4 linked regions of the Homo sapiens genome follow. The protein of the gene in region 2 purifies or fractionates together with the protein of the main gene of each other region. This does not show direct contact. Each region holds a gene or a part of one and is shown on either strand. Other genes may lie near its edges.

Evidence for each region. Proteins that work in one complex are often made in the same cells at the same time.
Region 1: the proteins of COPG1 (region 2) and WDTC1 purify together in Homo sapiens (co-immunoprecipitation; one large-scale study listed by IntAct). This does not show direct contact.
Region 3: the proteins of COPG1 (region 2) and ZNF2 purify together in Homo sapiens (co-immunoprecipitation; one large-scale study listed by IntAct). This does not show direct contact.
Region 4: the proteins of COPG1 (region 2) and ATL3 purify together in Homo sapiens (affinity purification with mass spectrometry, with the first as the bait; one large-scale study listed by BioGRID). This does not show direct contact.

The regions. Positions count from the first base shown.
Region 1 is NC_000001.11:27,237,632-27,241,131, reverse strand, and holds part of WDTC1 (WD and tetratricopeptide repeats protein 1), read right to left. Parts: intron 1-3,500. UniProt on the Homo sapiens protein: May function as a substrate receptor for CUL4-DDB1 E3 ubiquitin-protein ligase complex.
Region 2 is NC_000003.12:129,263,106-129,266,605, reverse strand, and holds part of COPG1 (coatomer subunit gamma-1), read right to left. Parts: intron 2,703-3,500; coding exon 2,607-2,702; intron 1,058-2,606; coding exon 814-1,057; intron 1-813. UniProt on the Homo sapiens protein: The coatomer is a cytosolic protein complex that binds to dilysine motifs and reversibly associates with Golgi non-clathrin-coated vesicles, which further mediate biosynthetic protein transport from the ER, via the Golgi up to the trans Golgi network.
Region 3 is NC_000002.12:95,175,809-95,179,308, reverse strand, and holds part of ZNF2 (zinc finger protein 2), read right to left. Parts: intron 3,122-3,500; 5' UTR 3,083-3,121; coding exon 3,050-3,082; intron 1,827-3,049; coding exon 1,700-1,826; intron 1-1,699. UniProt on the Homo sapiens protein: May be involved in transcriptional regulation.
Region 4 is NC_000011.10:63,664,877-63,668,376, forward strand, and holds part of ATL3 (atlastin-3), read right to left. Parts: intron 1-3,500. UniProt on the Homo sapiens protein: Atlastin-3 (ATL3) is a membrane-anchored GTPase that mediates the GTP-dependent fusion of endoplasmic reticulum (ER) membranes, maintaining the continuous ER network. It facilitates the formation of three-way junctions where ER tubules intersect.

The DNA of each region.
Region 1 (3,500 bases), on a different chromosome or scaffold from region 2:
AAATACAAAAATGCCAACGGTGACCCTCAAATCTGGCTCTGCAGTAGTAGCTGAGAATTTTCTTTGCACAGGGCCTCTGACACTGCCTCCTATACACTCTGGCCTTTTGACTGCATCCTCCCCTTATTCAGGCTTAAAGTTTTTTTGTTTTTTTTTTTTGAGATGGAGTCTCACTGTCACCCAGGCTGGAGTACAGTGTTGCGATCTCAACTCACTGCAACCTCCACCTTCTGAGTTCATGCGATTCTCCTGCCGCAGCCTCCTGAGTAGCTGGGACTACAGACACCCGCCACCACGCCAGGCTAATTTTTGTATTTTTAGTAGAGACAGGGTTTCACCACCTTGGCCAGGCTGGTCTCAAACTCCTGACCTTGTGATCCGCCCACCTCAGCCTCCCAAAGTTCTGGGATTACAGGCATGAGCCACTGCGCCCAGCCCAGGCTTAAAAGTTTTTAAGGTATTAGTCTTCAATGCCACAAAGCCCTTCAAGGAGTCAGCAGCTATTACTTAATAGCTCAAAGAATGGGCCCTAGAACTCTCAGAGTTACACATAGGCCTGAATTTACCCAGAAGAAGCCAACTAAGTGGTATTCCTTTACATCCAAGCCCTGGCTCTTGAGGGCAATCAGTGAGGTCTAGTAAAAAGGATATATTTCATCATTTAGTCCTCAAAAACCCACTAAAAAGTAGGTACTACAATAAGCCTCATTTTATAGGTGAAACTATAGCTCTGAGAGGATACATGATTGGCCCTAGGTCACAGAGCTAAGGAGGAGACATGGGTTCAAATATCAGCCCTACACTACTAGTTGTGTAACCTCCAGCATATTCCTTAACTTTAGTCTAGAGTCTCAGTTTCTCATTTGTAAAGTGGGGATAATGGTAATACCTTCCTTCCAGGGGAGCTCTGAAGATTATAAGAGACATTATAGAAAAAGTAGAGCTGGGCCTGGTGGCTCATGCCTGTAATCCCAGCACTTTGGGGGGCCAAGGTGAGTGGATCACCTGAGGTCAGGAATTCGAGACCAGCTTGGCCAACATGGTGAAACCCCATCTCTACTAAAAAAATACAAAAATTATCCAGGCATGGTGGCGCGCACCTATAATCTCAGCTACTCAGAAGGCTGAGGCAGGAGAATTGCTTGAACCTAGGAGGCGGAGGTTGCAGTGAGCAGAGATCGTGTGCACTCCAGCCTGGGCAATAAGAGCAAAACTCTGTCTTAAAAAAAGAAAGAAAAAGTATCTAGCAAGTGCCTGGTATATACTAAATATTCAATACATGTTAGTTTTTTTGGGTTTTTTTGGTTTTTTTTTTTTTTTTGAGACAGAGTCTCACTCTGTCCCCCAGGCTGGAGTGCACACGATCTTGGCTCACTGCAACCTCTGCGTCCCAGGTTCAAGCAATTCTCATGACTCAGCCTCCCAAGTAGCTGGGATTACAGGTGTGCACCACCACGGCTGGCTAATTTTTTGTATTTTTAGTAGAGACAGGTTTGCCATGTTGCCCAGGCTGGCCTCCAACTCCTGAGCTCTGCCCACATCAGCTTCCCAAAGTGCTAGGATTACAGGCATGAGCCACTGCACAACTGGCTTTTTTTTTTTTTTTTTTTTTTTGAGACAGGGTCTCTGTTGCCCATGCTGGAGTTCAGTAGCGCAGTCTTGGCTCACTGCAACCTCTGCCTCCTGCACTCAAGTGATGCCCCCGCCTCAGATTCCTGGGTAGATGGGAATACAGGCACATGCTACCACACCTGGCTAATTTTTAAATTTTCTTTTTGTAGAGACTGGGTTTCACTATGTTGCTCAGGCTGGTCTCAAACTCCTGGGCTCAAGCAATCCACCCACCTAGGCCTCCCAAAGTGCTGGGATTACAGGTGTGAGCCACCGTGCCAAGCCATGTTAGGTTTTACAGATCAAACAGACAGGGAGGCTGGGCATGGTGGCTCACACCTGTATTCCCAGGACTTTGGGAGGCTGAGGTAGGCAGACTGCTTGAGCCCAGGAGTTTGAGACCAGCCTGAGCAACATAGTGAAACCCCATCTCTATGAAAAAATTAAAAAATTAGCCAGGCGTGATGGCACACACCTGTCTTCCCATCTACCCTGTCTCATAAAAAAAAAAAAAAAAAAAAAGCCAGGAGCGGTGGCTCATGCCTGTAATCCTAGCACTTTGGGAGACCGAGGCAGGTGGAACTCAGGAGTTCAAGACCAGCCTGGGCAACATGGCAAAACCCTGTCTCTAATAAAAATACAAAAAAATTAGCCGGGGCTGGGCGCGGTGTCTCACACCTGTAATCCCAGCACTTTGGGAGGCTGAGGCGGGCGGATCACCTGAGGTCAGGAGTTCAAGACCAGTCTGGTCAACATGGTGAAACCCCATCTCTACAAAAATACAAAAATTAGATGGGCGTGGTGGTACATGCCTATAATTCCAGCTACTTGGGAGGCTGAGGCATGAGAATCACTTGAACCTGGGAGGCAGAGGTTGCAGTGAGCCGAGATCATGCCACTGCACTCCAGCCTGGAAGATGAAGTGAGGCATGGGAATCACTTGAACCTGGGAGGCAGAGGTTGCAGTGAGCTGAGATCATGCCACTGCACTCCAGCCTGGATGACGAAGTAAGACTCTGTCTCAAAGAAAAAAAAAAGATGTGGCAAACTCTCTGCTTGAATATCTGCAATGATGGGTAACTCACTCCCTCACAAGGCAGCCCATTTTGTTTTTAGAAAGCTACATTATCTCCTATCAAACCAAAGTCTACCTTCTTGGAAATTATGTCATTTAATCCTGAGATGCCTTCTAGAATCACAGAGAACATCCAGTTTCCTTTCCCCATGACAATCTTCAAGTATTTGAATGAGGTATCATGTTCCCCCAGGCTCTTAGCCTTGGTCTTTTCAGTTCTTCTTCATGTGTCACAGTCCCAGAGGCAATTCAATATCACAGAGCAGAGAGACCTGGGTTTGAATTCCAGTCCTTCCTCTTACTTGCTGTGTGACCTTAAGCAAATAACTTAATTTCTCTGAATCTGTTTCTTCATAGGTATAATAGGGAAAATGATTCTCACCTCACAGGACAGTCATGAAGGTTACACTGGATAAAGTAAAAATACTAGCTAGCACTGAGCTCAAGATATACCAGGCCCTGAATAAAATGTCAGTCACTTTTTAGGACATATCCCAACTGGCAAATACCTCTCAAAGTAAATTAACTACACCAAGGAACTGGCTTCTTTCTTTTTTTTCTTTTCTTTTCTTTTTTTTTTTTTTGAGATGGAGTTTCACTTTTGTTGCCCAGGCTGGAGTGCAATGGCACGATCACAGCTCACCGCAACCTCCACCTCCTGGGTTCAAGCGATTTTCCTGCCTTAGTAGGAAAATCCCTCCTGAGTAGCTGGGACTACAGGCGCGTGCCACCATGCCCGGCTAATTTTTTTTGTATTTTTAGTAGAGATGGGGTTTCACCGTGTTAGCCAGGATGGTCTCAATCTCCTGACCTC
Region 2 (3,500 bases):
AAAATCTGTCCAGTGGGGGCATGAAAAGAAATTAAAAATAAAGAATAGGAAGGTTGCTCACTGAATTGTAAACTTTATATAAATGGGTGAATTTTATGGCATGTGAATTATATCTCAACAAAGCTTTTTGTTTTTTAGCTAAACATCAACATACAGTGAAAGTTAAAAAAAAAATCACTTAAGGCAAGGCACAGTGGCTCTGTAATCCCAGCACTTTCAGAGACTGAGGCAGGAGGATAGCTTGAGCCCAGGAGTTCGTGACCAGCCTGGACAACATAGCAAGACCCCGTCTCAATTAAAAAAATACTTAAAAAATTATAGGGGTTAAGAACCATGGCCGAGCACGGTGGCTCACGCCTGTAATCCCAGCACTTTTGGGAGGCCGAGGCGGGCAGATGATGAGGTCAAGAGATCGAGACAATCCTGGCCTACATGGTGAAATCCCATCTCTACTAAAAATACAAAAATTAGCTGGGCATGATGGCACACACCTGTAGTCCCACCTACTCGGGAGGCTGAGGCAGGAGAATCGCTTGAACCCGGGAGGCGGAGGTTGCAGTGAGCTGAGATTGCGCCACTGCATTCCAGCCTGGTGACAGAGCGAGATTCCATCTCAAAAAAAAAAACAAAACAAAAAACAAAGAACTGTTCAACTAGATGACATGTAAGGTCCTGCCTACAATATTATGAAAAACAGCTTGTGCAGCAAGAACACTGAGTGCACAAATCCCCACTGGAGGCTCAGGTCCCTTTGCTGGGACATTTATTCAAGGGTAAGCTAAGTTTCCAAGTTCAGCCCTGGCTCAGACCTACCTGCCCGGACCTCCTCATGCTCCAAGACCACTCGGTTATAGATGAAGCGGATGTACTTTGAGGGATTGGTGGTCTTGGGCCCCTCCTGGCCCAGGAGATGTAGAATACGGGTGGCCAGCACTGTGAACTCGCAGTCCTCGATGAACTCGCACAGATGTGACAGCCCTGTCTCCTTGCTCTCTGAGTTCTCTTCAATGATGCTGATGATGCAGTCCACGATAGCGCGCTTATACTCAAAGCCACCCTGCAGAGAGAAGCTGAGCTAAGCAAGGAGCCTGCTCTCTCCAGAAAAGAGTTGAAGACCTGAGCTGGACCAAGGACAGTTGTCCAAACACAGAACTTGGAGACAGGGCACTTGGTTCTCTGGGCCTCTATCACTCTTTCCTGTCAAACAAAAGGCTGGTCAGGTGCAGTGGCTCACACCTATAATCCCAGCACTTTGAGAGGCTGAGGTGGGTGGACCACTTGAGCTCAGGAATTCGAAATCAGCCTGGGCATCATGGAGAGACCCCATCACTACAAAAAATAGAAAAATTAGTTGGGCATGGTGGTGCATGCCTATAATTCCAGCTGCTTGGGGGTCTGAGGTGAGACGATTGCTTGATCCCAGGAGGTTGAGGCTGCAGTGAGCCGTGATCACACCACCACACTCCAGCCTGGGTGACAGATGGAGGCCGGGCGCAGTGGCTCACGTCTGTAATCCCAGCACTTTGGGAGGCCAAGGTGGGTGGATCACCTGAGGTCAAGAGTTTGAGACCAGCCTGACCAACATGGTAAAACCCTGTCTCTACTAAATATAAAAAATTAGCCGGGCGTGGTGGGGGGCACCTGTAGTCCTAGGTACTCGGGAGGCTGAGGCAGGAGAATCACTTGAACCCAGGAGGTGGAGGTTGCAGTGAGCCAAGACCTCACCACTGCACTCCAGCCTGGGCAGCAGAACGAGACTCCTACTCAACAGAAAAAAAAAAAAACTGCTATCATGCATACAGTGTCTCCAAAGTGCTAGGCCTGGCCAGGCATGATGGCTCACACCTGTAATCCCAGAACTTGGGTGGCTAAGGTGGGAAGATCACTTATAGCCAGGAGTTTGAGACCAGCCTGGGCAACCCAGCAAGACCCCATCTCTACTTAAAAAAAACAAACACAATCACCAAAGTGCTGGGCCCATTAGCTGACAACTCACTAAACATTAGTGCCCTTCTACAACAACATTCTTGGGAAACGCAAAGACACTCAAGGCAATGGCTCCTCTACTGCCTAGTCCATGGGCCACTCTGGGGCTGGGTGAAAGGGGTACCATGTATCTGAGGAACAAATCTACTCCATGAACATCTGCTATTGCTCCTAAGAATTAACCCATTTTGTTGAGACGTCCAAGAAAGGTGGCATAAGTGAATCAGTAATTCACGTCGGGAACAGAAATAGAACCAATGTCGTATTATTAGCACCGGTTTCACAAGAAACCACTCCTAGAGCTCCTGGAATGGTCTAGAATATTTCTGCACTAGAGTCCACCAGAAAAGAACATGCATTTTCCCATCTTCTGCACAAGCATCACCTCAGGACATCCAGTTTTTAAAGTCAGGCTGGTGAGTCATAGTTATTACTGTAATTACTAGCAATTGGTACGTGTTTACATGTCCACAAGGAGTTTAAAGGGTTGCAGGCACCATGAAAACCAGTTGGTTAACAGGCTAACATAAGCACACGCACAAAGCTGAGCATGGAGCCAGTGGTCAGGTCACTCCCTGCACCAGGAGACCTGGCATCCCCCGAATGCCCCTGACTCTTACCTCTTCCCGCAGCATGGTGAACAGGAAGTTCATAAGGACGGCGTGTTTGCGAGGATATTTCTGACACAGGGCACTGATGGCCTGGACAACCACCACCTAAATGAAATAGACGTGCATGAGCAGCAGGCCCTGCCACCAAGATGGGGTGACTCAGTTCCCTGAGTGCCCACTGAGTCCTTCCTTAGGTAAGGCCAGGCCTTGGGCATGACACAAGGGCAAGGAGACCAGAGGAACTCAACTCCACGCTTGAAGCTTGAAGGGCACAATCCCTGAGCCCACCCAAGGCAGTGCCAACAGCCCCAGTGTCAGACTCTCAGACTCTGGGTTCCCCAAACTCTGCTCTTCTACTCAGGCTTCTTAAGTCTCCGAGTCCCCTCCACCCAACCTGTCCTGCTTCTCTCCCTACCACTGGCTCCCACTGATGGTTCCCACCCATCATCTCCTCTGGCTCCTTTTTGGTTAAGCCTGTCTCTGGGGTATTCTGTCCTTGGCCGCTTCTCTTCTCACAGTCTCTTCAGCAATCTTATCCCCTCCCATGGCTTTAACCGCCTCTTATATGCCACTGACTCCCAATATTTATCTCCTGTCTGAGCTTAAGACCTGCCTTTTCCAACTGCCTGTCAGACAACTCCACCTGGCGCCCACAGCACTTCAAACTCCACATGTCTGCAACCACAAACATCTCCATCTCCTTCCCCCTCCCTCATCCAATACCCCATCTTTTCCTCCCCTGCAAACTAGTCAAGAGCACCACTGTCAGCTCAAAGTAGAAAATGGCATCATCTCTGTTGACATCCACCCCTCAACCCTCACACCAACCCTGCCAACAGGCATTATCCCTCAAAAAGCTCTTGCACTGTCCCACCTCTCCTACTCCCGCCGGTTCAGGCACCA
Region 3 (3,500 bases), on a different chromosome or scaffold from region 2:
TAAAAACTGGATAATGAGGCTGGGCACAGTGGCTCCTGCCAGTAATCCCAGCACTTTGGGAGGCCGAGATGGGTGGATCACCTGAGGTCAGGAGTTCAAGACCAGCCTGGCCAACATGGTGAAACCCTGTCTCTACTAAAAATACAAAAATTAGCAGGGCATGGTGGCCCATGGCTGTAATCCCAGCTACTTGGGAGACTGAGGCACGAGAATTGCTTGAACCCTGGAGACAGAGGTTGCAGTGAGCCGAGATTGCATCACTGCACTCCAACCTAGGCAACAGAGTGAGACTCTGTCTCAAAAAAAAAAAAAAAACAAAAAAAACCAAACCTGGATAATGAAATGACGCTGATTTGTAAAGCTGATTTTTTTTCACACAATAAATTTAAAATACCATTTTATTTATATCAGTACTGATCTACCTCACCATTGTAATGGCTACGGGATATGACATTGTATGGATAACATAATTTATTTAATGAATTCCCTTATGATAGAAATTTAGACCATTTTTAACGTTTTGCTATTAACAAACAATAGTGTGATGAACATCTGCATACACCATGGACTACTAGTCCTATTATTTCCTTAGGATAAATTCCCTGAAGCAAATCTATCCATTTTTGGTTATATTAAAAAATAGATCCTGGAAATAGGCTTGGGCTCTAAACTTCCCTTTTGCTGAGGCCCCAACTTGGGAAAGAGGCACTTTCTTATTGGGCCCAAGGATTGTCTACCGGGTTTTCTGTGGATTCTCTGTTGACAAAACGGCCACACCCAGCATCTCCCTGTGGCTCTCTGTCCCTGACCTCAGGGGTTCTATTTTCCTCAATATGCCATCTACTAAAGCCTGTAACAAATGCTCCTTTGATGCCTCCTGAATATTCCATTCTGTTTGGGAGACAATTGGCCTGATTAAGTTAATCTGGGGGGTGTTAGCACTTACTTTTTGACCTGCCTCGTAGGAAATCTGCAATGTGACTCCTTTTACTGCCATCTGCTGCTTATTTTAAGCCGGTTTCTCAATCTGGGCACTCTCTCAGCCTCTCGTGAAGCTCCTGAAAGGTTCTCATAACCTCCAGGAGCCCAACTTTACTTTTCACTAACACCAGAATCAGCAGTGACTCTTAACTTTCTCTTTGTCACACAAGTCTCTATAATTACAAAGTGTCTTCTGTGAGCATCTAAGACTGTACCTAAGACAAATATTCAAAATCAAACATATATCTGGTGACCTCAGAGGCACAACCCTGAATTCCGACAAGATGGCCCCCTACCCCAGCGCACACTCCTCTGGGTGAGCTGAGTTACCTAACTGGCGAACTGGGAGAACTGGGCATATGAAACTCAGCGTCTTCTGCCTGCCCCTCTGGAGCGCCAGCTCCCTGCCTCTAACACACATTCCGCTCTGTCCCTCAGCCCTCGCTGGCCCTCCCTGAATTTTGCCGGGCAGGCTGCTGAGCGAGAGAGCCTATGGTCATCCAGCACTGCCCATGGCTGGGGAGGCATGTCTGCCCAATGCTGGGGTTCAGTATTGAGCCCGCCGTTGCTGTACTCTGATGCCACATCTTTCGACTCTTACTTTATCTCTCAGGTGGCTCAGAACTCAGCGGGGAGGAGAACGGTATTAATTCCTCAGCCCTCTCAGCCCCACATTAGCATAGTACAGACTGTACCTCCTCATGGAGGCTCCCCTTACCCAATGACACAATGCTGTTATAGTTCTCCAGCATCACCTCCTTGTAGAGGTCCCTCTGTATGGGGACCAGACGACTCCACTCTTCATCTGTGAAAACCACGGCAACGTCTTCGAATGTCACTGATTCCTGAAAATACAATCACATTCTCCCTTACTCTTAATCCTTCTCTTTACTTGGACCAGACCAAAAATGTCAAAGATGACAGCCCTGGAGGACGCATGGTGGGAGGAAAGAAAAACAGTTCTGACTGAGTAGAACTTTAAAGCATTTGGGAAAAGTGGCCTCATCACCCAAGACATGAAGTTCTTGGTCAGAATCTCACACCACTATACTTACAGCTGAGCTTCTGAATATCAGACTCTTTTTTCAGACTTCTAAAAACAGCACAAAAAAATTCCTGTGTACCCTTCACCTGGCTTCCTCAACTGTCAACATTTTCCACATTTACTTTATTTTTCTGTCTCTCTCTAGATACACATTCTCCTATCTTTTTGTTAGGCCTCTTGACTAACTTGTCAACATCATGTGTCTTTAATCCTAAATATTTCAGTGTGTATTTTGTAAAAACAAGGATGTACTGTTGTTATAATCACAGTATAACTATAAAAAATGGAGAAAATAGCATTGATCTTATACTATTATCTAATCTACAATCTTACTCAAATTTCACCAATTGTCTTTTTTTTTTTACAAATCCTTAGAATAATGGTGTTGATTAGATCATCTGTAGGATCCCTCTCATTTCATTCTAATGCTCTGTGATTCTGTAAGATTGCATCTCTTTACCTTCAGTTCTAAAACCTCAGATGAGTCTCCAGTGTGTCTGCAAAAGTTCTAGGCCAGGATGCAGAATTTAAGACTCTGCCCTCGGGCAGGAATGGAGCAAGCCACACAGTCTCTAGCACAGGAGACTCTCTTCAGGGCTCTTAGCACCCCACAGAGGTGCTCTACAGTGTGTATCACACGCCCCAGCCTAGCCCCACACTCCCTGGAACACTGGAGCCTCCTCTCAGTCCACACATGAATGTACCAAAGGGACTGTCAGGACCAGAACCAGCCCACTATTCCCCAAACCTTCCAATCAGACCCTACCATTGGCTTCTAGGCAAAATCACTCACAGTGAAGGCTCCAGGAGTTGTTAAGCCTGGTGACAAGCTAATGGGCACATGCTCACAGCAAGAAAAGGTCACTAAAGGATACCTCAAGTCAAATAGGAAAGAAATACTCCCTGTGGAGTCCTTCATCTGCCTGGCTGGGTCTGCTCAAAGAGGCTCCAGGATAGAGAAAGAAAAGTGGTTACATTCTGGAGATGAATGGAGTATTTCGGGAACACAAAAGTCCACCTCACCTGGCATCTGGTGGTCGGAGACACAGCAGCCATTCTCTCCTGTGTGCTCTCCTTGTGGACAAGGGCAGAGTCCTAATGAGGCAGAAGTGGGGGGTGAGAAAGAAGGTAGGAGAAAGACCAGTCCTGTCGCATAGTCTTTTGACCCATGAAGCACATACCAGGGGGATATGTCATCCTCAATACCTTACAAAAGGGGGTCTAAGTAAAGCAAAGCCAGGAACAATCCCAGACCACCCCAGAATTAGAGCCAACAACCATGGAACTGCGAATTAGACCACAATGTGGTGGTGGTTTTTACCACGATGCTAGAGGCAGAGTTCTGTTCCTGAGAGTCAAGAACTGTGTAAGATTCACACAGTACGTAAAAATTCACATTCAATATTGCCCTGAATGATTACTGGGCAAAAGCCATTAGCAATTTTATAAATGACTACATGGACAAGACATATCA
Region 4 (3,500 bases), on a different chromosome or scaffold from region 2:
ATTACAGGCGTGAGCCACCGCACCCGGCCAATAAACTATTGTAAAATGAATGAATGACATGTACCATAATGTGGTTGAAGGCTACAACCCAAAGGATCCAAGTGGCATTGTCAGAGCAGTAGACATGGAAGATAAAGTTACGTGGTTACAAGATGGGGTAATCCAATGATAAGAATGTATACAGTTGAGACTGGGCATGGGGGCTCATGCCTGTCAATCCCAACACTGGAAGGCCAAGGTGGGTGGATCACCTGAAGTCAGGAGTTCAAGACCACCCTGACCAACATGGAGAAACTCTGTCTCTACTAAAAATACAAAATTAGCTGGGCGTGGTGGCACATGCCTGTAATCCCAGCTACTCGGGAGGCTGAGGCAGGAGAATCGCTTGAACCCCGGGAGGCGGAGGTTGCGGTGAGCTGAGATTAAGCCATTGCACTCCAGCCTGGGTGACAGAGTGAGACTCCATCTCAAAAAAAAAAAAAAAAAAGAAGAATGTATACAGTTGTGTACAGTGAACTGCACTTCAAGAGAAGCTGAAGACTACTGAGGACAGCTATGGGGGAAAAGTCCTTACTCATCTCTTCCTCTCCCTGTAGCACGGTACCCAAGAATAAAGGAAGGGAACCAGGCTCTGTTTAGTTGGAAGAGCTGGGGTGATTCTGCATTTCTCTTCACACCAGTAATATAAGCATGATTATCAACACCCACCAGATTAAAAAAGATCTTGTTGGCCAGGCATGGGAGGTCTCGCCTATAATCCTAGCACTTTTGGGAGGTTGAGGCAGGCAGATCACCTGAGATCAGGAGTTCGAGACCAGCCTGGGCAACACGGCGAAACCCCATCTCTACTAAAAATATGAAAATTAACCAGGCTTGGTGGTAACGCGCCTGTAATCCCAGCTACTTGGTATCACTTGAACCTGGGAGGCAGAGGTTGCAGTAAGTCAACCACTGCACTACAATCAGGACAACAGAGCAAGACCCTGTCTCAAAAAAAAAAAAAGATGTTGTTCACTGACAGTGATCCTTGGGTTTGGGCTTATGTAAGGGAAGAATTATTTTGAGCTGTACACACCAATAATGCAAGTTAAATGGAGCTGCTTATATATTACACCTTTTTTAAGACTGGGTCTCACTCTGTTGCACAGGCTAGAGGTGCGGTGGTGCAATCATGGTTCACTGCAGCCTCAACCTACCGGGCTCAGGCAATCCTCCCACCTCAGCCTCCCAGTATCATCTCACTGCAACCTCTGCCTCCTGGGTTCAAGCAATTCTCCTGCCTCAGCCTCCTAAGTAGCTGGGATTACAGGTACCCACCACCACGCCTAATTTTTGTATTTTTAGTAGAGGTGGCGTTTCACCACCTTGGCCAGGCTGGTCTCGAACTCCTGACCTCAGGTGATCCACCCGCCTCAGCCTCCCCAAGTACTGGGATTACAGGCGTGAGCCACCGCGCCCGGCCTACCCTCTATTTGGATGATACAACTTCACAGATCTCTAACTTGCATTTAGTCTAAATGTACAACTGCCTAAGGGACAGATTCACCTGCTTACTCTCAGAAGTAACCTGTGGAAATATACAAATTTAGGACTCAAAACACAAGTTCCTGTTCCAGCCCTGCCACTAACAACCTGTGTGATCCTGGGCATGTCTAGTTTTCAGTTTCATCACTAAAATGGGTCAAGTGCTAACTGGGTGTGGTGGCTCATGCATGTAATCCCAGCACTTTGGGAGGCCGAGGGGGGTGGATCGCACACCGTGCGATCAAGTGATCTATCCACCTCAGACTCTCAAAGTGCTGGGATTACAGGCATGAGCCACCGTGCCCGGTCCACTTGTCAGGAATCTTAAACTCTGGAGATCTAGTCTCCGGGGAGGGTACTAAAAATATCTGTAAGTGGCAACTTTACATGCCTTGTCCCTTTAGAGAAGCAATTATTTTCCAAGGTCTAATTCTGCATACTGCAACAACAGTTAATGCTGTATTACATTACTTACATGAATATGGATAACGTGATGTTTTTGCACAGACACAAAGCTACAGCTGGACCACTGTTACATCTATCATTCATATGTATTTATGTGAATTTACAACATATGTTTAAAATTCCAGAAATAAACAATTCGTAAGTCTTAAGATTGCAACGCAGTTCTTAGTACCATGATGAAATCTTGTGCTATCCTGCCTGGGACATGAATCATTCCCTTTTCCAGAGTATCCACACTGTATATGCTACCATGCCCATTAGTTATTTAGTAGCCTTCTCACTGATCAACGTAGTGTATACAGGGCTCAGTGCTATCAGCAGTTTCAGGCATCCACTGGGGGCCTTACAATATATGCCCCTCAGATAATGGGGACTACTTCATTGCTGTAAATAGCTCATGATAATATTCTATCACTCATCAGTTCAAGTATGTAGAAAATGTTGAAAATCTTTGTATAATTAGAAAGCATTTTTTTTTTTTTGAGACAGATTCTTGCTCTGTCGCCCAGGCTGGTGAGCAGTGGCGTCATTCCTGCTCACTGCAACCTCCACCTCCCAGGTTCAAGTGATTCTCCCACCTCAGCCTCCCAAGAGTTTAGGATTCCTGAGAAGTGGGCCGGGTGCAATGGCTCACGCCTGTAATCCCACCACTTTGGGAGGCCAAGGCGGATGGATCATTTGCAGCCAAGAGTTTGAGACCAGCCTGACCGATATAGTGGAACCCTGACTCTACTGAAAATTCAAAAAAATTGGCCAGGCGTGGTGGTGCATGACTGCAGTCCCAGCTACTCGGGAGGCTGAAGCAGGAGAATCACTTGAACTTGGGAGATGGAGGCTGCAGTGAGCTGAGATCGCGCCATTGCACTCCAGCCTGGGTGACAGAGCGAGACTCTGTATCAAAAAAAAAAAAAAAAAATGACAGTGTAGACTAGGGTTTCTCAACCTCAGCACTACTGACATATTGACATTGGAGCTGCACAACTGTTGTGGGGGGCTATCCTACGCACTACAGGCTATTGAGCAGCATCCCTGGCCTCTACCCACTAGATACCAGTAACACTCCCCACAACAGGTTCTAACACCCAAAAAACGTCTCCAGTCATTGCTAAATGCTCCAGGGGCAGGAAGAGGCAATATTACCATAGGTTAAGAACCACTGAGTAGAGTCAGCCTTGGTGTTTATCCTTACCATTCAAAGAGTTCTGAATACAAAGTAACCAACCAGTCACAGAAACACTTTGCTGAGTAGATTCATGTATGACTCAGGGTAAAGTTATGACCTGAGTTTTCCAGTCTCCTTATAAAATATCATATTCTCCAAAGGGCAAGAGCAACACACCCAAAACAGAGGCATACCATTTTCATGCCTTGTTCTTGCTGGCAGTCTTTAAGGTTTCTAACTGACAAAGCCAGAGAAAACATCATCACAGGCAAGAGTAAGTATACTAAGACCTTAGCCAACTCTAGAACTGCTGGGTGTGGTTCCTTCTGGTGGTGGAGGGGTGGGTGCT